Regions from separate parts of the Homo sapiens genome. Here region 2 is linked to region 1. A link means that fine-mapping ties the variant in region 1 to the expression of a gene that starts in the linked region. Tissue or cell type: lung. Region 1 holds a variant in brackets; the other region holds the start of a gene. All regions are shown on one strand. Distances are from middle to middle.

Region 1 (16,714 bases):
CTGAATTCTTTCTTGCACGAGATCCAAGAACCCTCTTTTGGGATCTGGATCAGGACCCCTTTTCTGTAACACAGCTGCAGACCCCGAAGGTGGTCAGACTTGGGTCCTAAGATGGGGATGTCAGGGAATCTGATAAGGGCAGCCACCAGGTCCCAGGGATCTGTGCTCATGGGGTCTGCTGTGTCAGGAGATGCCTGCTGAAGGTGGGGTCCTTCAATGTCAGGGAGGGAAACAGCCCTCTTACACGATAGGGAGAGAGTTATATTCAAGACAGATTGTGCACACACACGAGTGGGACTGGGGGGTGTTCCCAGCCACAACAGTAAAGTTGAGACCTATGGAATCAGGGGACCTGGTTCAAATCCTGACCCTGAGAGTTTTGAGTGTGGCCTTGGGGCAAGTCATCTCCCTTAGGTGCAATTCTCTTGTCTGCAAAATGGGAATAGAGTTGTTCTCATTTGGCATTTTCTCTTATTGCGTTTAATTATTTTCCTAATCTTCATTTCATCCCTCGCAAGGGTTGTCAGATTTAGTAAATCATCATACAGAATGCCCAGTTACATTTGAAGATAAAGAGTGAATAAGGTTTTAGTCTAAGTCTCGTGAAATATTTGGGACATACACTGAGAAATTCTTCCGTTTGTCTGAAACTCACACTTCACTGAATGTCCTGTGTTTTCTCTGGCAACCCTGCTCCCCCACCAACGTGGTGATTTTGGGATGGTTATCTTCCCCCTCTCGGCTTTGGTTTCTATATCTGGAAAATGTGGAAGTGGGGGGTAGAATAAATGATTTTTAAGTTGCTGTGACTTTCTGAGATTTCTGCACAGGTTATTTGGACCCATTCTCTTGACAAGCCCCACCCCAACTCCAGTCTGTGTGCCTCAGTTTCCCGTCTCAGTCCTTAGGAACACTATGTTTATTTATTTATTTATTTGTTTGTTTATTTTGAGATGGATTCTTGTTCTGTGACCCAGGCTGGAGTGCAGTCTCATGATCTTGGCTCACTGCAACCTCTGCTTCCCAAGCGATTCTCCTGTCTCAGCCTCCTGAGTAGCTGGGATTACAGGCATGTGTCACTCGGCTAATTTTTGTATTTTTAGTAGAGATGGGGTTTCACCACGTTGCCCAGGCTGGTCTCGAACTCCTGGCCTCAAGTGATCCACCCACCTCAGCCTCCCAAAGTGCTGATATTACAGGTTTGAGCCACCCCACCTGGCCTGGGAACACTATTTTCTAACATTGGGCCAGTTTGTTTCATTTATGCGGCAATGGCGCTACCTAGTGGCTCAATGGAGAAGGGCGCAGAGGGTAAACACCAGCCCACAGCAGGGCTTGGAAAAACACTCAAGGAATGTGAGCAGAAGATGAACATCTCTGTCTGGGGGAAAAATGGTATCATTAAACTGTAGCAACCTCAGTGTCCACTCCTCCTTCACCAAGACCTCACGGTGATGTTAGGAACTGTCTACCAAGAGGCAGGAAAAGTACACAAGCAAAGTAACATGGTGCATTATCTATGGATATCTTGTTGGTCTCATCTAATTTTTTTTTTTTTTTTTTTTTTTTTTTTAGAAGGAGTCTCACTCTGTCGTCCAGGCTGCAGTGCAGTGATGTGATCTCAGCTCACTGCAACCTCCACCTCCCGGGTTCAAGTGATTCTCCTGCCTCAGCCTCTCTAGTAGCTGGGATTACAGGCACATGCCACCATGCCCGGCTAATTTTTATATTTTCAGTAGAGACAGGGTTTTGCCATGTTGGCCAGGCTGGTCTTGAACTCCTGACCTCAAGTGTTCTGCCGGCCTTCACCTCCCAAAGTGCTGGGATTACAGGCGTGAGCCACCGTGCCCCGCCTGGTCTCATCTGATTTTTAGCAACGGTGGGGTCAACCTGATCAATTGCCCTGAATTTTCCCATGTTCTTCCTCTCTCCCTCTCTTTCTTCCTAATGATGACATTTATGTACTGCACATGAAGCCCTGTCTGAGTGCCTTATGTTGTAATTGCTAAGCACCTGCCTATTGTTTGCAAGGCCCTGGAATACAAGGTGAAGACACTGGAAAAAGTCCTGGCCCCTAGCCTTAGCAAAAACAATCATATGCATGAGCATTCGAGTTTTTTTTGGAATATTCAGCAATTACAATCAAAATGCCATTAACAGTTTTTACAAGGCCAGGCACAGTGGCTCATGCCCGTAATCCCAGCACTTTGGGAGGCTGAGGTGGGCAGATCACCTGAGGTCAGGAGTTCAGGACCAGCCCAGCCAACATGGTGAAACCCAGTTTCTACTAAAAATACAAAAATTAGCCAGATGTTGTGGTGCACGCCTGTAATCCCAGCTACTCAGGAGGCTGAGGCTGGATAATTGCTTGAACCTGGGAGGTGGAGGTTGCAGTGAGCCGAAGTTGTGCCATTGCACCAAAGCCTGGGCAACACAGTGAGACTCTGTCTCAAAAAAAAAAAAAAAATCAAAAGGATACTATTTCACGACATATGAAAATGATATGCACTTCAAATGTCAGCATCCATAAATAGAGTTTTATTGGAGGAATACCATGCCTGTTTGCTTAGTATGGTCTACAGCCACTTCTGCACTCCAAGGGCAGAGATGAATATTTGCAGGAGAGATGGTGTGGCCTCCAGTGTAAAAAGCATCTACTGTCTTATCCTTTATGGAAAAGTAACTAATGATAATATTACAAATACCTACAGGGTGCAGTTGTGTGCCCGGCACCCTTTTAAGTGCTTTCTACATATGGGCTCGTTTAATGCCTCAGCCCCTCTGGGGCAGGAGTGCTACTGTTAATTATGATCCTCACGTTGGAGACAAGAACAGGAGGCACAGAGAGAGTAGGGTCCTTGCACACAGATTCACAACTGATAAGTGGTCAGAAGGAGGATTTGAGCCTAGGCAGTTCCCGATACAGAGTCTAATTTTATTTTTACTTTTATTTATTTGTTGGAGACAGAGTCTCACTCTGTCACCCAGGCTGGAGTGCAGTGGCATTATCTCAGCTCACTGCAACTTCCACCTCCAAGGCTCAAGCGATTCTCCTGCCTCAGCCTCCTGAGTGGATGGGGTTATAGGCACCCACCACTATGCCCGGCTAATTTTTGTATCTTTCAGTAGAGACGGGGTTGGCCAGGCTGGTCTGGAACTCCTGGCCTCAAGTGATCCACCTACCTCACCCCCCAAATTGCTGAGATTATAGGCATGAGCCACTGTGCCTGGCCCAGAGTCTGATTTTAATTTAAAAAAAGAAAATCCTATACCACAACGTTAAAGGAATGAAGTTGGAAAGTAAATGTTTTGTTTGTTTTGTTTGGTTGTTTCCTGATGGCTACTTTGTGTTTTTTGAACACTAAGTAGCAATTTTTCCCCCTAAAATGTTCTCCTCTTGTGTTTTGTGGACAGTGGCTATGGTGGTGCCTCAGGGTTACTGGTAACTTCAAAACATGGTTAACTTGCCTACTGGGTACCCTAATAGCACATGGGGAAGTATCAACGTCATCATCATCATCTTTCTACAGAGGAAACTGAGGCCCAGAGAGGGTGAACTTCCTGCCCAAGGTCAAGTGAAGGTCATCCTTATTGAGGACTTTTCCCATCGTATCAGACAATAGTAGGCAAATTGAGACAGGATTGGAGGAGGAGGAGAAGGAGGAGATGGGGGTGGAAGGGGAGGAGAAAAAGGAGGAGAGGAAGAAGAAAGGGAAGAGAAGGAGAGGGAAGAGCAGAGGGAAGAGAGGGAGGACGGTAGAGGAGAAGAAGGGAGAAGGGAAGAAGTGGGAGGGAAGATGACAGGGAGCAGAAAGGAAGAAGAAGGTGGAGCAGGAGAGAGGAAGAGGAGGAGGAGGGGGAAGGAGGAAAAGGAAGGGGTGCAGGAAGAGGAGGGGGTGCGTGGGCAGAAGGTGGGAGAGATGCAGGAGGAGGGAGGGTGCAGGGAGGGGTGCAAGAGGAGGGGGGCAGGAGGAGGAGGCTGGGGCAGAGGGAGAGGGGAGGAAGCCTTATGAGCTTCTACACCAGGAATGGAATCCAGGGTGATGAAGGCAGAACAAGGGTAAAACCTTTCATGTGCCTCTCTGACACCAACCTGGTTCTCCCACAGCCTCAGACTTGCCCTAACCCTGGGGTCACAGCGGACCTCTTCCAGCCTCTTGAATGCTAAGTCAGGAGGAGGAAGGGTGGGAGGGGGAAGGAGGAGGGGGAGAAGGAGGGGGTGGGGGACTCCGTTCAAATCCCGTCTTCCTCCTCTGGCATACCTGCCAGAGATAGACGAAGCAGACCACGATCCAGACGAGAGGCAGCCACAGCCCGTTGAGGTAGAGGACGCTCTCGGTCAGCCGCTGCACGTCCACGGACACCAGATTGACCACATCACCCACCGCACTGGCCTTTCTGGAGCCGCTGGACAGAGCCAGGACCTGGCGGGTGGGCAGAAGGAGAGAAGTAAAGTGGGGAGGCCGGGGCAGAGGGATGCCCCAGGTGGCTTCTCCACCCACTGAGCCCCACCTCACACGTCTGCGAGGTGGGTGAGTAAAGTCTCTTAGGCCAACCTCTCAGGGCTCTTTGAGGATCCACAGAGATGACAAAAATGAAAATCCTCCAAGATCCCTAAAGCACGGGAGGCATAATAATGAATAACATGCACGAAAACACCAGATTAACACAGATAACGGTGGTCATCTGCCCAGTGCTCACCATGTCGCAGGCACTGTGCTAAATGAACAGCCTTATCCTTTCCCGGGGTGCTCACAGCCATGAATGGTACCAAGCAGGCACTACCATATTCATTCCCTCTAATGCCAGGCCAGGTGCAGTGGCCTCTGCCTGTAATCCCGCCACTCTGGGAGGCTGAGGTGGGAGGATTGCTTGATCCCAGGAGTTCGAAACCAGCCCGCGCGACATAGTAAGACCCAAGCTCTACAAAATACTTTAAAAAATTAGCCAGGGGGCCGGGTGCGGTGCCTCACGTCTATAATCCCAGCACTTTGGGAGGCCGAGGTGGACAGATCACCTGAGGTCAGGAGGTGGAGACCAGCCTGGCCAACATGGTGAAACCCTGTCTCTACCAAAAATACAAAAATTAGCTGGGCATGGTGGCAGGCACCTGTAATCCCAGCTACTTGGGAGGCTGAGGCAAGAGAATCGCTTAAACCCAGGAGGCAGAGGTTGCAGTGAGCCCAGATCAAGCCATTGCATTCCAGTCTGGGCAACAAGAGCAAAATCCATTTCGGGGGGGAAAAAAGAAAAAATTAGCCAGGCATGGTTGTGGTGCGCCTGTGGTCCTAGCTAGCTACTGGGGAGGCTGAGGTGGGAGGATTAATTGAGTACAGGAGGTTGAGGCTGCAGTGAGCCATGTTGGTGCCACTGCACTCTAGCCTGGGCAACAGAGCAAGACCCTGTCTTTAAAAAAAATTCTATGGATAAATTGCTCTCTATTATTCTCTCACCAAGGAAAATACCACTTCCAGTTAAATTAAGACATGTAAGAGACATCTCGATTTTGGAAGTATTAGAGTGAAAAAAAAATGTGAGACGAGAATCAATGAAATGAACATTTACTAACCCCATTCTATGGCTAAAGAAACTGAGGCAGAGAGAAGTTGAGCAACTTGCCCAAAGTCACAGGCCTTGTAAGCTCCTACACAAGGAATGGAATCCAGGGTGACGAAGGCATGACAAGGGTGAGACCTTTCATGTGCTTCTGTGACACCAACCTGGTTCTCTGGCAGCCTCACATCTGCCTTAACCCTGGGGTCACAGTGGACCTCTTCCAGCCTGTTGAATGCTAAATTCCAAATGCAGCCCTCCCTTTGTGACTGCGTGAGGGTGTGAAGAAGTGATCCAGGAATGACTGGACATAGAAATTCTCCACTTAGCAAGTCTTTGAAGAGTGCTCACTGTGTGACTCACACTGAGCTGGGAACTGAAAATACAGCTGTGAACAACAGAGATGAGGCTTGCTCTCCCGGGCCTGGAGTTTGAGGTGGGGAACAAGGCTCTATAATAAAGATTTATATAACTGGCCGGGCACAGTGGCTCACACCTGTAATCCCAGCACTTTGGGAGGCTGAGGCGGGTGGATTGCTTGAGGCCGGGAGTTCGAGATCAGCCTGGCCAATATGGCAAAACCCCATCTCTAGTAAAAATACAAAAATTAACTGGGCATGCTGGTGGGCACCTGTAATCCCAGCTATTTGGGAGGGTGAGGCAGGACAATTGCTTGAACCCAGGAGGCAGAGGTTGCAGTGAGCCAAGATTGCACCGCTGCACTACAGCCTGGGTGACAGAGTGAGACTCTGTCTCAAAAAAATAAGACAAAACAAAAATATTTCTAAAACTCATGCTTTAATGGCAGTTATGATGAGTAACATAAAAAAGTAGCCCAGGCTGAGCGCGTTGGCTCATGTCTGTAATCCCAGCACTTTGGGAGGCTGAGGTGGGTGGATCACCTGAGGTCAGGAGTTCGATACCAGCTTGGCCAACATGGTAAAACCCTGTCTACTAAAAATACAAAATTAGCCGGGCATGGTGGCGCACACCTGTAATCCCAGCTACTCAGGAAGCTGAGACAGGAGAATCACTTGAACCCAGGGGGCGGAGGTTGTAGTGAGCCGGGACTGTGCCACTGCACTCCAGCCTGGGCAACAAGAGCGAAACTCTGTCAGAAAAAAAAAAAAAAAAAAAAGCCCAGAGGTTAGAGAGGAGGGATCTGATCTCATCAGGAGATCAAAGAAGGCCTCCTGGCGTGTGGGTGGGGAATAGGAAGATCAATGCCTGCTCACCAGGCGGCCTTCCTCTTAGGCTCAAGGAAATGTGGACTCTCAAGACAGGATAGGGCACACCTAGCTCTGGCATGCTCAGGGGAACAGGAGCCTGGGATGCAGCACTCTGGCAGGAAAGCATCAAGAGCTGCCCTCTCGGCCACCTAGGAGCTGTCCCCTCTGTCCCCTCCTCCCCTAGGTGACAGCTCAGGTGTCAGGGAATGACACTTACATGGGACGGGACCTGCCCTGGCTCAGATGCTCCATACCCCACAGGAGCCAATAGCTCTTGGGGCAGCAGTCCAGGGACTTAGCTTCCAGAGTCCCAGGAACGGACAAGAGCCACTGCACAGAGAGAAGTCTAAAGCTATGGCCTCCAACCAGGTATTCACAGTCAATGGACAGAACTTCCAGCCCAGATGCAATTTGGGTTTTTTTGTTTTGTTTTTTTTTTGTTCTGAGACGAGGTCTCGCTCTCTTACCCAGGCTGCGCTGTAGTGGCGTGATCTCAGTTCACTGCAACCTCCACCTCCCGGGTTCAAGCGATTCTCCTGTGTCAGCTTCCCAAGTAGCTGGAATTACAGGCACATGCCACCATGCCTGGCTAATTTTTGTATTTTTAGTAGAGATGGGGTTTCGCCATGTTGGCCAGGCTGGTCTTGAACTCCTGACCTCAAGTGATCCGCCTGTCTCAGCCTCCCAAATTGCTGGAATTACAGGCGTGCACCACTGTGCCCAGCCTAGGGGTCATTTTTACCCCAAGCAGTATTGTCTGGGAACACAGCTGACAGGCCACCTTATCAGAAGGTTAATCCTTTATCCTCAAGGGGGAATGAGTGGAAGTTAAAATCAGGCTCAAAAATTAAAATTAGATTGGGGGAGTAGAAGTGGTGCCTAGACAGTGAGAACAGCTGCAAAGGCCCCAGGGTGGGTGGGGGCCTGGAGTGTTTGAGGAACTGAAAGGAGACCTGTGTGGCTGGAGGAGAGTGAGCATGGGAGGAGGTGACGGGATGAGGTCAGAGACACCCTAGGGACAGATCACACAAGACCTTACAGGAATAACTAAGGAGCTGAGACAGATCACTTGAGGCTAGGAGTTCGAGACCAGCCTGACCAACATGGCAAAACCTTGTCTCTACCAAAAATATAAAAATTAGCTGGGCGTGGTGACACGTGTCTATAGTCCCAGTTACTCAGGAGGCTGAGGCAGGAGAATCACTTGAACCCGGGAG[G/A]CGGAGGTTGCAGTGAGCCGAGATTGCACCACTGCACTCCAGCCTGGGTGACAGAGCAAGACTCCATCTCAAAAAAATAAATACATATAATACAGAGAAATAACTAAGGAAGTGAGAATGTATGGTGAGTGACTCTAATAAGCAAGGACTGAATGCGTTCTCAGCTGCTGATAACATTACTGCCCGCTCAGTGATACTGCTTTTCCTGGCTGGGAAGACCTGCCCTTGTCCCCCAGGGCTCACCTTTCTGTACACCAGGCCAGTGATGGCCGACCGCAACCTCATCTGCAGCACCTTGAGCCTGTACATGTTCTGCTGCTCAAACAGCGTTTGCAGGCAGGCTGAGAGGAACATCAGCACGGCGAGGAGGTAGCCCTTCCAGGCTGGAGGCTTGGGATCACCAATAAACTCCAGGAAAAGGCTTGCAGGGGAAGGAGGGAGAAGGTACAGCTGGTGAGAGGAGGTGCCTAAGGGTGTTGCCTTTGCCCAAACCAGTCCAGATGTGGAGGATCAGTCGGCCCAAACTAGTCCAGGTGTGGAGGATCAGTCAGTGTGGTTTTTTTTGCAATAATGGTCTCCGTTATTTCCCCCACTGTCCATACTCCTTTTCAATCTGACTGCAGCTCCTCAAGATCAAGAGGTGGAGTTTTTGTTCCCACTTGTTATAGGCTAAATTGTGTCCTCACAAAGTTTATATGTTGAAGCCCCGACCCCCAGTACCTCTGAATGTGACTGTATTTGGAAATAGGGCCTTTAAAGAGGCAATGAAGTTAAAAATGAGGTCATTAGGCTGGGCCCTAATCCAATCTGATGGGGTCCTTTTAAGAAGAGGAAATGTAGACACACAAGGAGACACCAGGGGGCGCAAACAGAGGAAAGACCATATGGGGACACAGGGAGGAGGTGGCCAACTGCAAGCCAAGGACAGAGGCCTCAGATGGAACCACCTTGCAGATACTAATCTCGAACTTCCAGCTTTGAGAATCATGATAAAATACATTTCTGTTGTTCAAGCCACTCAGTCTCAGTCTGTGATGCTTTGTTATGTCAGCTGAGCAGACACCACTTGAATCTGGGCTGGCTACAAAACCGGCTTTGGCCAACAGAGTACAGTGGAGGTAAAGCCATGCTGGCTCTGAGCCTAGGCCTCAAGAGAAAATGTGGTTTTTGGTCTATTTCTTAGAACCCTCCCAAGCACCCACATGAACAAGTCTGAGCTAGCCTTTTGGAGGATGGGGACCCACATGGAGCAGAGACAGCCATCCCAGTCTCAGATACACAACTGCAGGCACATGAGAAAACCCAGCCAAGAAAAGAACCACCACCCAGCTGAGCCCAGCCCACATTACTGACCCACATTACCATGAACTAAATAAAAGAATGTTTGTCATTTTAAGCCACTCACTTTTGGGGCATTTTACAGCAAAAACTAATTGATGCAGTCAGGTAAGAGCTTGCTTATTTGCCCTTCTGGGGGTCAGTCACTTTCTCATTAATCCATTTCCCTTCCTCAGTGTCCTTCTCACCCACCATCCAGTGTCCCGAGCACCAGACGTATAGGCAGAGGCAGGAGAGCTGAAGCCCCCTGGCCCTGGAAGGATGCCACTAAGAGACCACCCACCTTAGCAGGGCACTTGAGGTCTGGGACTCACCTGAGCAGCTTGGGGACAGTGAACCTGAAGACATCACTGATGATGAGGCTGAGGGTCCCCAGGAGGAAGGTAGAATGGAACACCTGCCAGATGGCCTTCAGCAGTGGGCGCCACTGGCTCCCTTCTTGCCGTAGGAAGGGCTCGGTCTCTGGAGCCTTCATGCCACTGCCGCCTTTCCTTTTAAATGCTATTGCCTTGTTGTGCCTGAGGGGAAGGGAGAGATTAGCTCTGGGTCCCATTTTATACTCTCAGCCGCCAGCGGCAGGGCCAGGCATTAAAGGGTTGTTTTCCCAACAGTGGAGATGGGTGGGTGTGGATCTAGCCTGGCTCCCTCACCTGTTCCTCCTTATCACCCTGAGTACCCACTTAAGAGGCAATCATGGGAGTTGGGGGGCAGGGCAGGAGGGCACTCTGAGGCCTCTTAGATGGCCATGGGAAAGCACACCTGTTGAGCACCTACTATGTGCCAGGCACTCCCCAGTCATCCTAAGACCCCCTGAGAAGCCAGGTGTTGTTCCCATTTCACAGATGAGAAAACTGGGGCTCAGAGAAGCGAACTTGCCCAAGGGCACACAGCTGAGAAGTAAAAGAACTGGAATTTGATTCCAGCTCTCTGCCTCCAGAGCCCATGCACTTTTCTTTTTTCTTTTCCTTTTTTTTTTTTTGAGACGAAGTCTTGCTCTGTCGCCCAGGCTGGAGTGCAGTGGTGTGATCTCAGCTCACGGCAACCTCCACTTCCCAGTTCAAGTGATTGTCCCACCTCAGCCTCTCGAGTAGCTGGGATTACAGGCAAGTGCCACCATACCCAGCTAATTTTTGTATTTTCAGTAGAGAAGGGGTTATGCCATGTTGGCCAGGTTGGTTTTGAACTCCTGACCTGAGGTGATCTGCTCGCCTTGGCCTCCCAAAGTGCTGGGATTACAGATGTGAGCCACCACACCTGGCCTCTCATGTACTTTTCAACCTATCGTGTTGTCAACCTGGAGGAAGAACAGCACCCCGTCCCCAACACACACAATCAGCCAGCCCTTAGGTGGTTTTGAACTGGTGGAGAATCACGGCTGATGGGCATGGGGCCTGGTGCTCTAGCTCTGGGTGAAAGTGCAGACAGAAGCTCAGGCTGCCTCAAACTAATAAGATCCCCAGCCTTTGGCTATAACCAGGGGCCACAGAGAAGAGCTAAGGTGAGGGAGGGAGAGGAGGAGATGGGGGAGGCCCGAGGGCCCCTGTGAGGCAGGTCAGAAGCCCTGGGCCAGAAAGGAGAGGCTGGGGCGATGCAGCTGCTGACAGTCCGGTTGCTGTGTGGTCCTGGGCGGGGACACTGCTCCTCTCTCTGTGTGTGAGAGGATGGGTGTGGTCCCCTGCTGAGTCCCCTGTGGCTCTGACAACCTATAAGGTTATCAGTAATTTCTTTTTCTTTTTCTTTTCTTTTTTTTTTTTTTTGAGACAGAGTTTCGCTCTTGTCGCCCAGGCTGGAGTGCAGTGTAGCAATCTCGGCTCACCGCAACCTCTGCCTCCTGGGTTCAAGCAATTCTCCTGCCTCAGCCTCCCAAGTAGCTGGGATTACAGGCACACACCACCATGCCTGGCTAATTTTTGTATTTTTGGTAGAGACAGGGTTTCACAACGTTAGCCAGGCTGGTCTTAAACTCCTGACCTCAGGTGATCCACCTGCCTCGGCCTCCCAAAGTGCTGGGATTACAGGTGTGAGCCACCATGCCCGGCCACTTATCAGTAATTTCAATCCCCATTACAGATCTGTGACCCGGGGCCACGTGCTGGGATCAGCTCTTTACACGAAGGAGCTCACTGACTCCCCTGGATCCCCTTGCCAGGTGAGCATTATTAGGTTTTCCATTTTACAGAAGGGGAAGCTGAGGCTCTGAGAGATGGCGACAGCCGCCCGAGGTCACACAGCAAGGGCAGAGCAGGGATTTGAGCCTAGATCTTGATTTATGGTTTGTAAAGGGTTTCTTGTGCACTAAGGACCCCCAACCTCACCATAATAAAATAATAATAAAAAAAGAAGCATAAGAAAAACCTCTGGTGAGCTCAGGTGGCCAGACCCTTCAAGGCCAAGGTCTCTGTCCCACATTATTGGTCTGATCTGGTGTTTGGTTTGGCATCTATGGAGGGTTGTGGTTCAGCTCTGTTACTGAGTGGGTGTGGCCTGCTGCTCACAAATATTTTGGCATTTGGATCTCAAAGCCAAGAAGATGCCCCTTCCATACAGAGAGCATCCCTGCCCACCCTTTCCTGTTTGATCCTGCCATTTAATTCATTGCCTTCACAGCCATGTCCATGGCTCCAACCCTCTCTTTGTCTCGTTAGAACCCCAGGTGGGTAGACTTTGCCTGTGTTTTCCACCAAGATGTCCCTAGTATAGAGTCCAGCTCCTGCACACAGTAGGAGCTCAATAAACACTTGTCAAATGAATGGGAAAAACAGATTGAGTGATGTGTGCAAAGGGCCTAATAAGAGTGCCCCCTGCACATACTGTTATAAAAATTTATAGAAGGAAGGAAGGAGCTTGGCTGGGTGGACAGAACTTGGCTTTGGAGCCAGGAGACTGTGGTTCCAATGCCTGCTCTGTCTCCTCTCCTCTGAGCCTTAGTGTTTCCATCTGCAAAATGGGGTCGGGGAAGAGTTCACTGGAAAGTTTTCTTTCTGGCTGAGGTTCTGCTCAGTTCTATTTGAGCTGTTTAACCCAGAGAGTCAGTGTGTTCAGCCTGCAGGCTCCATAGCAAGTGTTTTCCTCTCCTGCAGGTCTCACCTCCCATCAAGGAAGATGTCCAGATTGCTGTCTGACGTCTGGTCTCTGGACTGAAGGCCATTTAGTGCAGATCTCACAAATGATGGTGGGGCAAGGCAGGGGGTATGCATGAGTGGCATGGGCAAGGTGTGAGTTGGGGGATACAAAAGGGAGTGGTGGAGGCCGGGCACGGTGGCTCACACCTGTAATCCCAGCACTTTGGGAGGCCAATGCGGGCGAATCACCTGAGGTCAGGAGTTCAGGGCCAGTCTGATAGCCTGAGCAACATGGAGAAACCCCGCCTCTAATAAAAAATACAAAAATTAGTGAAGCCGACTGGACCAGCAGGTGGCTGTTGTGTGGCCTCTCAGGAGGACGCCCTCTCCCTTCCCCCAGTGGTTGCAAAATACTTCAGAAAGAAAACCAAAGTTCTCTGTGGGTGCAGTCGGTTGTTTCAGAAGCTGACGGAGCCTGGTCTTTGTATAACCCCATCTTTCCCCTTTCTTTCTGTCAACTGTTTATGGGAGGATTCTCAAACTGTTCTGGAGAATGTTTCTACCCTTTAGTTCTAGTGTTGGGTGACCTGTAATTTTCATGTTGGCTGGGGATGCCAGGAGTTGGCAGAGGCTCCTTCCAGAGCCCCTGTGGACTGGATTCTGCCACTTCCGTAAAATCATTCAAAAGTAGAGGGTGAGTCAGGTGCAGTAGCTCACATCTGTAATCCCAGCACCTTGAGAGGCCAAGGCAGGCAGATCCCCTGAGGTCAGGAGTTCAAGATCACCCTGGCCAACATGGTGAGACCCTGTCTCTACTAAAAAAAATTTAAAAATCAGCTAGATGTGGTGGCACACGCCTGTGGTCCCAGCTACTCAGAAGGCTGAGGCAGGAGAATTGCTTGAACCCAGGAGGTGGAGGTTGCAGTGAGCTGAGATCATACCACAACCCAGTGAAGGGGGTCCAGCAAGCCATGCCTGGGGTGAGAGAGAACTGATGTTTTGGTTCTCTCACACTACTTATTCTGTTTGGAAAAACACATGCCCTTCCTTTGTGGGAACAGCCCCTACCCACTTCTGTGGCTCTGAAGGGACCACCAGTCATGGCACCAGCCCCCTGGGCATGGGATTGGCCCCTGACAGGCACATGACTTGAGCCAGGCCAATTAGAGGCCTTCCTTGGGATTTACTATATGGACGTTAGGAGAGAGATGCTCTCTTATTCTGCTGGAGTTTGCTGAACTTGCATGGGAAGGGATAGGCCTTATGGAGAGACCAACACATAGATAATAGTTGGGATGGGAGATGAAAGGAGAGAATCCTGACATCATTTGAGTCCCCTGATCCAGCAACACCTGAGGCTAGATCCTCTTAGCTGTGTGAGCCTATAGTATCAGTCTCTGTCTCCTCTGTCTCTCTTAATGTGTGGGATTCAGCCATCTGCAACAACTACCACAAAATCCCGGAGTATGCAGGGAACTTCCCACAGAGCTAACTTCCTTTTTTGTTCTGTCTCCTAAAACACCAAGATCCGGTGAGGTTAAGCAACGTGTCCAAGGTCATCACTATTTGAAGGCAGGGCAGCATTTAACCCAATTTTATCTAATCCTATGCAGGCTCATTTATCTAGACCAGAGTTTCTCAAATGAGGCATCCCAGGCTCTAAGGGCTGCAGAGAAGTTTCCAGAGATGCCACTGAGGGCAGGAGTGGACAGAGTGGATAACTCCAAAGATCTTAACACCCTCTGGATGACTAACAGTGCTTGAGCACTTCCCATTTGCAAGACATTTGCAAGTTCTTTTCCATAAATCATCCTTTTTTTTCATCCCCATAAGCTATGAGCTGGGGCTAATGACATCCCCACTGAACAGATGAGAAAACTGAGGCCCAGGAAAGGAATTGCTCAGGTTATATAGTAAGTGAGCAGCTGCTTGTGTGTTGAGTCACCTCCCAACCCTCCACCCCGGCCTTAAAATACCTCTTCTGTTTGCTGCCTGTCATTCTGCCATTTCCCCATTTGTAGGAACCTGTTTGTTCCCCGTTTGTAGGAACCTGTGATGCGTTCTGGGAGGAACCATATCTTAAGCCTGATACTACTTAGTGGGATCAGCTGGAAGGCAAGGTGGGGAGGCGGCAGTGCCGCCAGAGTAGCGTTGGGGGCTGGACTGGGGGTCAAATGATGAGGTTTTTTTGTTTTTGTTTTTGTTTTTGTCTTGTTTGTTTGTTTTTTTTTTTGATACGGAGTCTGGCCCTGTCACTCAGGCTGGAGTGCAATGGTGACATCTCCACTCACTGCAACCTCTGCCTCCTGGGTTCAAACGATTCTCCTGCCTCAAGCCTCCTGAGTAGCTGGGATTATAGGTGCCTACCACCACGCCCAGCTAATTTTTCTATTTTTAGCAGAGATGGGGTTTCACTATGTTGGCCAGATTGGTCTTGAACTCCTGACCTTGTGATCCGCCTGCCTCGGCCTCCCAAAATGCCGGGATTACAGTCGTGAGCCACCGCACCCGGCCAATGATGAGCTTTTCTGAAGTAGCATCAGGTGAGTTCTTGACCTCCACCCACTTACCTCCGGGCTGCACTGCGGTTCCTCATCCACTCCTTTTCAAGCCGGGAAACAAGTTCTTCTGAGGAGTTTTCTCTCCCAAGCGACCAGAGGTCTTTTGGTCTCAGTGGCCTCCTGTATCCCCTCCAGACCAGGCTGCAAAAGAGGGGCACCAGGGAAAGCTTTTCCTGCCATTCACCCCTGCAGGATCCTGGCCAGGCGAGTAGCTGTGTGACCCTGGGTAAGTCACTTTACCTCTCTGTACCTCTACTGGCCCCTGGGTAAAAAGAAAGCAATTCACTAACCCCACCTAATGTCTGCAGGGCATTTCTCGTTTCACAAAGATTGTCTCATTAATTCTTACATGAACCCATAAGGTAGGTTATTATTGTTTGTTTGAGATGGAGTCTTGTTCTGTCTCCCAGGCTGGAGTGCAGTGGTGCAATCTCGGCTCACTGCAACCTCCACCTCCCAGGTTCAAGCGATTCTCCCACCTCAGCCTCCTGAGTAGCTGGGATTACAGGCACCCACCACCATACCCGGCTAATTTTTGTATTTTTTGTAGAGATGGAGTTTCACCATGTTGGCCAGACTGGTCTCGAACTCCTGACCTCAGGTGATCCACCTGCCTCAGCCTCCCAAAGTGCTGGGATTACAGGCATGAGCCACCACACCCAGCCTGTAAATTGATAGTTTATAATTGTATAAATGTATGAGTATATTATTATAGATCTATTTTACAGATGGGGAAGGAAATAGAAGTGCAGAGAGATTCAGTGGCTAAACCAAGGGATAGCCCTTGGCAAGGGAAACAGACATTTCCCTGGGAATCAGAAGTCCGTTGACCAAAACTATCATTGTAGAAGAAGCTTGAACTCCTCCCTCAGCTTTTTTTTTTTAATTATTATTATTTTTTTTGAGATGGAGTCTCACTCTGTTGCCTAGGCTGGAGTGCACTGATGTGATCTGGGCTCACTGCAACCTCCGCCTCCCTGGCTCAAGCGATTCTCACGCCTCAGCCTTCTGAGTAGTTGAAATTACAAGCCACCATCACACCTGGCTAATTTTTGTGTTTTTGGATGGTGTATCACCATGCTGGCCAGGCTGGTCTCGACCTACTGGCCTCAAGCAATCCTCCCACCTCAGCCTCCCAAAGTGCTAGGACTACAGGCGTAAGCCACCACACCTGGCTAATTTTTTTGTTTATAGTAGAGATGGGATTTCGCCATGTTGGCCAGGCTGGTCTCGAACTCCCGGCCTCAAGTGATCTGTCAGGGTTGGCCTTCCAAAGTGTTGGGATTATGGGTGTGAGCCACTGTGCCTGGCCTCAGGTCTCTTTAATCTTTCTGATGACACCAGCCAGAAGGTCTTGCCTGGTTCTGGTCTCTGACTCTTCTCTAAGCCTTACCAAGTTCCCTTTTCTTTTTTATTTTTATTCTTTTTATTTTTTTGAGATGGAATCTCACTCTGTTGCTCAGGCTGGAGTGCACTGGTGTGATCTCGGCTCACCGCAACCTCCACCTCCTGGGTTCAAGTGATTCTCCTGCCTCAGCCTCCTGAGTGACTGGGATTGCAGGCTCCCACCACCACACCTGGCTAATTTTTATATTTTTAGTAGAGATGGGGTTTCACCATGTTGGTCAGGCTGGTCTCGAAATCCTGACCTCAGGTGATCCACCTGCCTCAGCCTCCCAAGGTGTTGGGATTATAGGCGTGAGCCACTGCGCCAGGCCACCAAGTTCCCTTTTCTAATGCAGAGCCAACTTGGG
Region 2 (12,010 bases), 19 kb after region 1:
ACAAATGGTGGGCCAGGGCTGCGTCTGGGTTTTGTCCTTAGCCACATGATGATTGGCCACAGCTGCTGGGACAATGAGATGAAGAAACAATTTACCTTCTTCTTTGTGCCACAAAAGAAATCCTTTCTCCGTTCCACCCTCTACCCCAATCTTCAACCCTGCTCCCCCTTGGCCAGGGTTCTCTGTTTTGCAGAGATGAGAGCTGGTTTTATTGAGCACTGACCCTGCCCTGAGCACATGCGGCATTCTTGCCATACACAGTCTCATCAGCTGGAGTTTACTTGCTTCCTTTGACTCAGGGGGAAACCAAGGCTCAGAGAAGTGACAGCACCTTGTTCAAGGACACGCAGATGATCTGGTCCAAATTGTGATGCTCCTGCTGCCACACCACAATGATTTTTGCATCTGCTGCCCTGTCATCTGGTCAGAAACACCCTAATTTTCTTTCTTTTTTTAATTTAAAGCATTTTTTATTTTTTAATTTTAGGTGTGTGTGTGTGTGTGTGTGTGTGTGTGTGTGTGTATACTTTTTTTTTTTTTGAGACGGAGTCTTGCTTTGTCACCCAGGCTGATGTGCAGTGGCATGATCTTGGCTCACTGCACCCTCCGCCTCCTGGGTTCAAGCGATTCTCCTGCCTTAGCCTCCTGAGTAGCTGGGATTACAGGCATGTGCCACGACCCCTGGCTAATTTTTGTATTTTTAGTAGAGATGGAGTTTTACCATGTAGGCCAGGCTGGTCTTGAACTCCTGACCTCAGGTGATCCGCCTGCCTTGGCCTCCCAAAGTGCTGGGATTACAGGCATGAGCCACCGCGCCCGGCCTGATATATATATTTCTGGATGACGTGAGATATTTTGATACAGGCATGCAATGCATAATAATCACATCAAGGTAAATGAGGTCTCCATCCCCGCAATCATTTATCCTTTCTGTTACAAATGATCCATTCTACTCTTGTAGTTATTTTATTTTTTAGTTTATTATTGAGTTGGAGTCTCACTCTGTTGCCCAGGCTGGAGTGCAGTGGCTTGATTTTGGCTCACTGCAACCTCCGTCTCCTGGATTCAAGTGATTCTCCTGCCTTAGCCTCCTGAGTATCTGAGATTACAGATGTGTGCCAGCACGCCTGGCTACTTTTTTTGTATTTTTAGTAGAGACAGGGTTTCACCATGTTGCCCATGCTGGTCTTGAACTCCTGACCTCAGATGATCCTCCTGCCTTGGCCTCCCAAAGTGCTGGAATTACAGGTGTGAGCCACTGTGTCCAGCCTCTTTTAGTTATTTTAAAATGTACAATTAAATTATTATTGACTATAGTCACCCTGTTGTGCTATCAAATAGATATTATTCTTTCTGTTTTTTTGTACCCATTAACCATCCCCATTTCCCCCACCCACTGTCCTTCCTAGCCTCTAGTAACCTTCCATCTACTCTATATGTTCATGAGTTACATTGTTTTAATTTTTAGCTTTCACAAATAAGTGAGAATATGTAAAGTTTGTCTTTCTGTGCCTGGCTTATTTCACTTAACATCCATGTTGTTGAAAATGACAGTACCTCATTCTTTTTTATGGCTGCATAGTACTTCATTGTGTATATATACCACATTTTCTTTATCAGTTCGTCTGTTGATGGACACTTAGGTTGCTTCCAAATCTTGTTTATTGTGAACAGTGCTGTAATAATCATGGGAGTGCAGAGATCTCTTCCATGTACTGATTTTCTTTCTTCCTAAGTTTTTTGCTTGTGTTCGGGCGTGTGATTTGTGCAGAACTGACTCTACTCCGAGGCTGGGTGGGTGAATGAGGCCTGGCCAACGAATACGTTCTGGTCTTTTGGCTACCATGGCAGGGTTAGGAATGCACATAGCACCCCATGCTGGGTACTTGAGAGCTGGAACCATCGGGAGATTCTGCTGGCTTTGCTACATGCTAGAATGTAAGTGTGAAGGTATTGGTGGCTCTTCTTGCCACTCCATTGGAGAATCAAGCTAACATGGCAGAGCCAAGAGGCAGAAGTGGAGATCTGGTGATGGTACCTGGTCCCAGGCCTGGATCAGTCATGCCTGGGAGATCCCATGGGTATGAGCTAATAAATGCATGAGCTAATGAACCCCCTTGACTTACCCTTTTCATTAAGCTAGTGTGAACTGAGGTTTTATGGCTTTAAACCAGAGCCCTAGTTTTAAATCATGATTCCTCTACTGGATTTTATACTCTTCTAGTTTTGGGTTTTTGTTTGTTTGTTTGTTTTTTGGCAGATAGCAGACAATTGGATATTCCAATGACAATATGGCCCATCTTCCCTAAACTCCCACTGTTTTCCCCACTGTTTCTCTCAGAAAGTTTGTTCTGAATTTGCCTGAGATGAACTCGGGCTCTGCACTCCCAAGCTTTGTGGCCCTGAGGCCGTCATTCCCTTCTCCTAGCCTTAGTCTCCCTCATCTTTAAAATGGGACGGCTAGAATTCATCATTGGCTGGGGCACATTGGCTCAAGCCTGTAATCCCAGCACTTTGGGAGGCTTAGGTGGAAAGATCGCTTGAGCCCAGGAGTTTGAGACCAGCCTTGGGAACATAATGAGACTTTGTTTCTATTTCTATTTAAAAAAATAAAGAACCCATCACTGTGAACTCTTGTGAGAATCCAGTGAGGAGACGTGTGTAAGTGCCTGCCACAGTGCCTGGCACATGGTTGGAACCCCAGAATGTATATGGTCCCAGTATTATTGTTTCTATGCTGTGTCCCAAAAAGCTGACTTATGTCAACTGTGGGAGCCCACCATTTCAGAAATTACTGAATAACCTGTGGAATTTCCCCTTAGTTACAAAGGTTACTCTTTTAAAAACTCTGTCCTCGGTCAGGCGCTGTGGCTCACGCCTGTAATCCCAGCACTTTGGGAGGCCGAGGCGGGTGAGTCACTTGAGGTCAGGCATTTGAGATGAGCCTGGCCAACATATTGAAACCTTGTCTCTACTAAAAATACAAAAATTAGCTGGGCATGGTGGCACATGCCTGTAATCCCAGCTACTTGGGAGGCTGAGGTATGGGAATCGATTGAACCCGGAGGTGGAGGTTGTAGTGAGCCAAGATCGTGCCACTGCACTCCAGCCTGGGCAATAGAGCAAGACTCTGTCTCAGAATGAACAAACAAAAAATAAAAACTCTGTCCTTAAGGACAGGGTGATGCTTCTCTACCTTCTCCTTTAGGGGCAGGATGGAGTAACCACTGGACTGAAGAAATGATCTGTGAGTCCAGACGTGGTGGCTCATGCCTCTAATCCCAGCATTTTAGGAGGCTGAGGTCAGAGAATTGCTCGAGCCGAGGAGTTCAAGATCAGCCTGGGCAACAAAGCATGATGTTGTCTCCACAAAAATAAAATAATGAAGTAAAATATCTGAAACCTGCTGCAGCCTGTTCATTGGTGTTAAGATAACTCCCTCTCCCAGAAGCCTTGGCTAAGCACACTGTCGAGGCCAGTGCTTCTCAATAGGTGGGTGACTTTGTCCTCCTCACCCCCAGGGACACTTGGTAATATCTGGAGACATTTTGGGTTACTGCAATTGGATGGTATGCTACTGGCACCTATGGGCAGAAGCCAGGGATGCTGTTTCACACCCTGCAGCAAACAAGACAGCCCTGTCCACCCAACAAAGAATTGTCTGGCCACAACATTACTAAAGCTGAGGCTGAGGGAAGTTGGTCTAGGCTACATGTTTTTCTCTTTACAGAGAAAATGACCCATCATGTCTCCTAATAGAGAAACGCTGCTTCCGGCCGAATGACAAGAGCTCACGCCTGTAATCCCGACACTTTGGGAGGCCAAGGCAGGTGGATCACTTGAGGTCAGGAGCTCGAGACCAGCCTGGCCAACATGGTGAAACCTCGTCTCTACTAAAAATACAAAAATTTTTAGTAGAAATTTAGTAGAAATTTTTAGTAGAAATTTAGTAGAAATTTAGAATAAGCCAGGTGTAGTGGCACACACCTGTAATCCCAGCTACACAGGAAGCAGAGGCAGGAGAAGTGCTTGAACCCGAGAGGCAGAAATTGCAGTGAGCTGAGATCATGCCACTTCATTCCAGTCTGGGCGACAGAGCAAGCCTCTCAAAAAAAAAAAAAAAAAAAAAAAAAAAAAAGCTGCTTCCCAGATTGGGCAACAGAAATACGAGTGGTGTGCAGAATGAGTGTGTAAATATAGGTGCATAGGAACATGGGGAGGGTGAATCCATGACATGAGGGGAGGTGTGCACGGAGGGGTATGTGTGCACACAGGTGTGTCTGTGCCCAGGTTGTGTGTGTGTGCGTGCATGCATGTACTTGTGCGATGTATGAATCAGTGCCTATAAGTGTGTGCATCGTGTGCAAGTGGCACGTGTGATGTGGGCCTGTAAGACAGGAAATTGTGTTGATAAGAAATGTATGGGATGATGGGTACTGACAGGTGCGGGAGTGGATTTTGTGTCTCTAGAGTGTAAGTGACTGGCTTGTGTGTGTCACTGTATAGAGAATAAGTTGTATGTGGAAACAGGAGGAGAAAGGAAGGGACCCAAGGCATGAGCCACCATTTTGGTTTCCCAGGGTGGCCCACGCCCCGACTTACCGCTCCGGAGGCCTGCTGGGCAGCGTTGGTAGCTGGCAAGACAAAGCAGAGAAGCCAGTAACCAAACAGCACTCCAGATGACTGGACTCCCTTTTTCCTCTCGGTGTGAATCAGGAACACTGCGAAGCTCTGGACGGGAAAGTCAGGGAGGCCCCTTAGGGGAGGGTGGGAGGCTGAGGGGAGCCTCTTCTCTTCCCCTTGTTCTCCACTGTGGCAGGCAAAGCAGCAGCTGGGAGGAAGCCGGGCTCCAGACTGAAGGCATCATTACCATCGTGGTGAGCCACACAGTAGGATGAATGAGGAATTCTGGGGCCTCAGGCGTTCCCTGTTGGATTTTCCAAAGAGCGACAGCCACGCTGGAGGTACACAGGACTATGAGGGCGAATCCAAGCACCTGAGGATACAGGCTTAGATAAGCTTGGGGGGCAATAAGAGAGGTCACAGCAAACTGGTAGGCGGCCCCATGTCCAACTGGGAGCTGGTTCTGCAACATCCTGGCTGATACTGAGTATACCAGGGTCACCAGCTAGCAACGTGCCAATGTGAACAATGTGTAAAGGGCATTGCAGATCACTCCTGACCTGTAACTGTCATATAAATAATGCACAGGAAGGGCTTGAGCCAACCGAGTGTTTTCCAAAATGCAGGAAGTGCTCCAATCGTGCACATATGAGATGACTGTGGGTATGGAGAAACAGCAGGAAATGAAATGTACTCACCAGGTAAAAAACTATCCTTTCTCCAAGTCATTTTTCAATCCCTGCTATGAAATCAAGGAGCAACTCTCTGTTGGGCCAGTAAGTCTCTAGGGTCTCTCTAATATATTTTGGTTTCTCTATTGAATAAAAGAAAGGAAGAAAATGAGAGAACGTGGGCACACCAGAGGGAAGGCCAGAGCTAGGTTACGTTGGAGGAACTGCTCAAAGAACCTCAGTTTAAAGCAGAAGTTGGCAAACTATCAATCATCAAAGAAAAACAAAAAGCATATGTCATGACAGGTGAAAATTACATGAAATCCAAATTTCAGTGACTACAAATAAAGTTTTATTGAAACGCAGTCGGCCGGGGGTGGTGGCTTACACCTGTAATCCCAGCACTTTGGCAGGCCAAGGCAGGCAGATCACCTGAGGTCAGGAGTTGGAGACCAGCCTGGCCAACATGGCGAAACCCTGTTTCTACTAAAAATACAAAAAAATAGCGAGGTGTGGGGGTGGGCACCTGTAATCCCAGCTACTCGGGAAGCTGAGGCAGGAGAATCACTTGAACCCAGGAGGCGGAGGTTGCAGTGAGCCGAGATCGCACCATTGCACTCCAGCCTGGGTAACAAGAGCAAAACTGCATCTCAAAAAAAAAAAACAAACAAAAAAGTAACACAGTCATGACTATTGTCTATGGTTATGACTATTGCGTTCATTCTGGAATGGCAGAGTTCAGTGTTCGGAAGGAAGATTACCTGGCTCACAAAGTCTCAAATACTGTGTACCGCTTGGCTCTTTAAGTTTGCCAACCCCTGGGTTGGTGGCGGGTGATAATGTAAAAATTAATACAATGGCAGAAGAATGAATGAACTCTGAAGAACATTCTTTGGAAGCCTACAAGAATGGAGTAGAAGAGGATGGATGAGCAGAAAGGCTCACACTTGGAATGCCAGTGTTTATTTAACACACTAAGGTAAATACATATCACATATAAAAATTGTCCTATAATACAGCCAGTGGGGGAACATAAAAATAAATGCATAACTTTTTAAAAGGTTCATCCTAATGTGGCTCTAAAATTACCTTGTGTATCCAAGAGTCTACATGGTATGTTTTGGAAAATGCCAGGTTATGGTAGCTATAAACTGTCCAGGAACATGGGAGTGTATGCGTATGTTTGCGCATGCGTGGATTTTCGGAATTACAAAATCTGTTTGGGAGAACCGTGTTCCACTGAGTTGACCTCTGTAGCCTTTCTAATATTGCTCTGTTTGATTAACAGATTCCCTTCTACACCCCGATAGGAGGAGTCTACTTTAAGACTTCACCAGGTTCCAGCCTGTCCCCTGCCTCCCCCGAACATTGCCTGGTTCCAGGCTCCCAGGGATGGCAGCTACCATCTTGGCTTTGAAGAGTGGGGACATCCGGAGGTAGCCCCGGCCATGGTGGTGGATGAAGAGGAGGTAGATGGGACCAAGGACCCAGAGGTACATGGGGGGTACCCAGACCCCTGCTGTTCTCAGGAAGCACAGGCTCAGCAGGCTGGTGGCGGCAGGTTCAGGCTCTGTCTGGTTCCAGACCTGAGGGAACACAAAGAGGACCCTTAGGATGGTACAAGGCAGGGGTCCCCAGCTCACCTGCCCAGGGGGCCAGGCAACTTTTTGGATCTTTAACATTTACACAAAAATGTACCAAGTACTCTTTGGAATACCTACTAATTCTCAATTCCTTTCATCCTGACATTAACCCTAGGTAGTTGCAATTATATTGATTTGCAGATGAAGAAGCTGAGGACCAGAGAGGTTGAGTAACTTTGCTGACTTTACCCAGCTGAGGAGTGGAAGGGCTGGGATTTGAACCCAGGGAACTGGGCCATGTGGTCTAGGAGACCTGGGCTCCATAATCATTGCTAGGCATGGACTGTCAGTTAATCCTTATAACAACTCCAGGACGCAGACAGTACTGTCTCCATTTCAGAAACCAGCAGACTGAGGCACCAGTCGGGGAACTGCCTCCCCCAGGGACACACAAATGGGAAGTGGCAAAGCTGACTCTGACCCAGGCTTATCTGACCCCAAACCTCGTTCGACTGGTGGTCTTGATGTATGATTTGTTTTTATTTTTTATTATTAATTAATTTATGTTTTAGAGACAGGGTCTCACTCTGTTGCCCAGGCTGAAGTGGCACAATCAAAGCTCAACAAAGCTTCGAATTTCCTGGGCTCAAGCAATCCTCCCACCTCGGCCTCCCAGAGTGCTGGGATTACAGGCATAAGCAGCCTCACCAGGCCTGGCTAATTTTTTTTTTTTATGTTTTGTAGAGATGGGGGTCTCTCTATGCTGGTCTCGAACTCCTGGTCTCAAGCAATCCTCCTGCCTCAGCCTCCTAGGTACTGGGATTACAGGCAAGAGCCACCGGCCCAGCTTGATCTGTTATTTTCATCTCAGCAGGTCTGCTGGTCCTATCTAACCCTAGAAGAAATTTGAAGTTTAGTGGACGTGGCCTCTTCAATTCTCTCTCCGCTGTCTTTTTACTCCTCCTGGTTTCACAACTCACCGGCTGTGCAAACTTTAACCTCTCTGTATCTCAGTTTCCTTCCCTGTAAAAGGGGGAAAACGAGACTCTACCTCTATGAGTTGTATTAAATGGATTAATAGCAGCAAAGTTCATAGCAGCATGGCACAAGGTTGGGCACAAGGCTAGGCACAGAGAAAGCCCTCAGTTCATTGCCAGTTTATTGCTTCAACTCCCTGGCCCTCGAAATGCTGGCAGTTTGCAACCCCCACCCCCACTCCATGAACTCCACTCCCTGGAGTCCTTTGCTAAGAGCAATGGAAAAAGAAACCAGAGAGGTAAGGGCTCTCCGGGGGTAGGAGGGCTTGGGGGACCCACTAGCTTTATGCAAAGAAGAGTCAAAGCCCCTAGTAGCTGGGAGGTCTGGTGGCCCCTTAAATAGAGCTGGGCTCTCGGCTGCTGGCTTGGTGAAAGAAATCCAACCCGCTGCAGTGAGGGGGCCGGAGTAAGTCTCCTCGCTTCCCGGGTCCAGGAATTTGGGGGTCTCTCCTCTCCCCAGTATCGCAGCCCGAGAGATCTGCAGCCAAACCAAGCCTGGAAAAGGAGAGTGGGGCGCGATGGGGGGCACTCACCCCCTGCCCCGCGCAGGGCTCAGCAGGCGCGGCCATCGGCGCCTTCTGTCGTCGTGGGTCCCAGCGTCTGTCTGTCGCTAAGTCTCTGGGCAGACTGCTCGGCCGCGATCCTGCCGGAGAAGAGGCGGGGCTGGGCTGGTCGGGCTGGGCTGGTCCGGCTGGGATTCGAGCTCCGGGATCGGGAGGCCCCGGGCAAGGTCCAGCTGCGCGGCGGGAGTGAGGCCACGGGAGGTGAAAACAGGCGAGGTGGGGGATGGGGGAAGAGAGGCGCTCGGGGAGCTGGGACGGGCACCGGGTTGGGGGGTCCCGGAACCCCTGAAAGTTCAGTGACACCTCCATAGTTCCCTCTTCCCCCTGCAACAAGAATCACTCCAGACTTCCTAAACACTTTGGACCCAGCAATTTCCAGGAGTTCATCCTGATGAGAGAACTGAAAGGTGTGCACACGTTAGTAACAAGGAGGCCTGGTGACCGCCTAAGCGTCCAATCGCGGGGACCACCGGGTCGAGGCCGAGAGGATGGAGACCGCGTCACAGGCACCTCGCTGCTGGAATGGAGGGTGGTGGGGAGAACTTAGAAGATTATGCAATGGGCTGGCAGGGCTATACCCAGCCGCCCTGGTAAGCAGAAACTCAAGAAACCTCTAGGGTCCTGTTTTCTGGTCGTATGATCCCAGGAGTGCACATGGGCCCCTCGGGTGTCTGAACAGAAGGGCATAGGAGGGAGGGCCGCAGCCCTGCAGTCTTACTCTGCTGGTGTAGCGGTCACCTGCCAACTCCCACCCCACCCTGCACCGCGGGCTCCTGAGTCGGCAGATTAAGCATTTTATAAATTCTATTTTAAATACGTGTTTTAAACTTGTCAGATATTTGTCTTCATTTCAGTCCCTGCGCCTCTACCTCTTGCTGTGGTCGCTTATTTAACACTGGGGGGCTACGTTCTGCTAAGTCCCAGGGAGAGACTGTTCCTAATATCCGAGGGAGATATTATTCCTAATATCACGCTGGGTGAACACCACGTGTGTACAGCCTCTGATACGATTGGTAATATCCAAGGGAGATATTATCCTAACATCCCAGTGGGTGAACACCATGTGTGTAAACGCTGTGGTATTATTAGAAATATCCAAGGGAGATATTACTCCTAATATCACAGTGGGTGTACATCCTGTGATATTATTCGTAATATCTGAAGGAGATTTTACTCCTAATATCACAGTGGGAGTACACACTGTGATATTATTTGTAATATCCGAGGGAGATTTTACTCCTAATATCACAGTAGGTGTACAACCTGTGATATTATTCATAATATGCTAGAGATATATTACTCCAAATCTCATGGTGGGTGTACACTCTGTCATAGAATTCGTGATATCCTAGGGAGTTATTACCGCTAATATCACAGTGAGAGTACACCCTGTGATATTATTCATACTATCCTAGAAAGATATTACTTTTAATATCACAGAGGGTGTACACCCTGTGATATTATTCATAATATTCTATGAAGATATAACTCCTGATATAACCGTAGGTGTATACCCTGTGATATTATTTGTTATATCCTAGGGAGATACTACACCTAATACCACAGTGGGTGTACACCCTGTGATATGATTTGTAATATCCTAGGGAGATATAACTCCTAATATCACAGAGGGAGTACACCCTGTAATATTATTCATAATATCCTAGAAAGATAATACTTTCAATATCACAGTGGGTGTACACTCTGTGATAATATTCGTAATTTCCTAGGGAGATACTACTCCTAATATCACCTTGAGTGTACACTGCGTGATATTATTCGTAATATCGTAGGGAGCTATTGCTTTTAATTTCACAGTGGGTGTATACCCTATGATATTATTCATAATATCTTAAGAAGGTAGTACTCCTAAAATCACAGTGCCTGTACACACTGTGATATTATTCATAATATTCTAGGGAGATGTTACTCCTAATCTCATAGTGGGTGTACACCTTGTGATACTATTTGTAATGTTCTAGAAAGATATTCCTTTTAATATCACAGTGGGTGTACACCCTGTGATATGATTCGAAATATTCTAGGGCGATATTACTCCTAATATCCCAGTGAATTTACACCATGCGTGTACACGCTGTGACCTCCCAGAAAGATATGACTCCTAATATCACAGTGGGGGTACACCCTGTGCTATTATTTGTAATACCCTATGGATATCATAATATCACAATGAACGTACACCATTGTGTACATGCTGTGATATTATTTGTAATATTTTTGGGTGATATTACCCCTAATGTCACAGTGCGTGTACATCTTTTGATATTATTTGTAATATTCTGTGGAGATATTGCCCCTAATATCACAGTGGGTGTATACTCTTTGATACTATTCGTAACATCCTGGAAGATATTATCCATATTGTCACGGTGGGTGTACACCCTGTGATATTATTCGTTATATTCTGGGGATATACTATTACCCCTAATATACTGTGGGTGTACCCCCTGTGATATTATTCACTATATCTTGGAGATATAATATTACCCCTAATATCACAGTGGGTGTATACTTTGTGATATTATTCATTATATCCTGAAGAGATATTATTTCCTTTAATATCACAGTGCATGTACACCTTGTGATATTATTTGTTATATCCTGGGGAGATACTACTATATTACTCCTAGTATCACAGTGGCTGTACGCCTTGTGATACTATTCATTATATCCTGGGGAGATATTATTACTCCTAATATCACAGTAAGTGTATACCCTGTGATATTATTCATAATATCCTGGGAGATATTACCCATATTGTCACAGTGGGTGTACATCCTGTAATATTATTTGTAATATCCTGGGGAGATATTATTACTCCTAATAGCACAGTGGGTGTACACCCTGTGATATTATTGGTTATATCCTGGGGAGGTATTATTATTCCTAATATCACAGTGGGTGAACATTCTGTAATATTATTCATTATATTTTGGGGAGATATTAATTCCTCTAATATCACAGTGGGTGTACACCCTGTGATATTATTCATTATATCCTGGGAAGATATTAATCCCTCTAATATCACAGTGGGTGTACACCCTGTAATATTATTCATTATATCCTGGGAAGATATTATTTCCTCTAATATCACAGTGGGTGTACACCCTGTGATATTATTTGTTGTATCCTGGGGAGATATTATTATGTCTCATATCACAATGGGTGAACACCCTGTGATAGTATTCGTTATATTTGGGGAAGATGTTATTACCCCTAATATCACAGTGGTGTACACTCTGTGATATTATTCATTATGTAGTGGGGAGATAGTATTACCCATAATATCACAGTGGATGTACACCCTGTCATATTATTTGTTATATCCTTGAGAAATATTATTATTCCTCTTATCACAGTGGGTGTACACCCTGTGATATTATTCGTTACATCCTAGGGAGATATTGTTACCCATAATATCACAGTGGATGTACACCCTGTCATATTATTCGTTATATCCTTGAGAGATGTTACTACCCCTAATATCACAGTGGGTGTATACCCTGTGATAT

What was found. PIP is the estimated chance that this variant, and not a neighbour inherited with it, causes the effect.
Region 2: it holds the start of ABCC6, and the variant in region 1 is fine-mapped to the expression of ABCC6 in lung (TOPMed, PIP above 0.99). The same link has a PIP of 0.9 or more in cerebral cortex.

What each region holds. Positions count from the first base shown.
Region 1 is chr16:16,193,759-16,210,472 of GRCh38, forward strand. ABCC6 (ATP binding cassette subfamily C member 6) reads right to left here. Exons shown (of 31, transcript NM_001171.6): 7 at 14,970-15,101; 8 at 9,652-9,855; 9 at 8,243-8,420; 10 at 4,263-4,424. LOC105371100 (a long non-coding RNA gene) reads left to right here and starts at 15,099. Exons shown (of 3, transcript XR_933131.3): 1 at 15,099-15,186. RefSeq lists an enhancer at 6,513-7,014. The variant G/A (reference allele first, on the strand shown) is at 8,000.
Region 2 is chr16:16,214,952-16,226,961 of GRCh38, forward strand. ABCC6 (ATP binding cassette subfamily C member 6) reads right to left here and starts at 8,543. Exons shown (of 31, transcript NM_001171.6): 1 at 8,448-8,543; 2 at 6,698-6,880; 3 at 4,871-4,996; 4 at 4,603-4,731. The coding sequence starts at 8,483.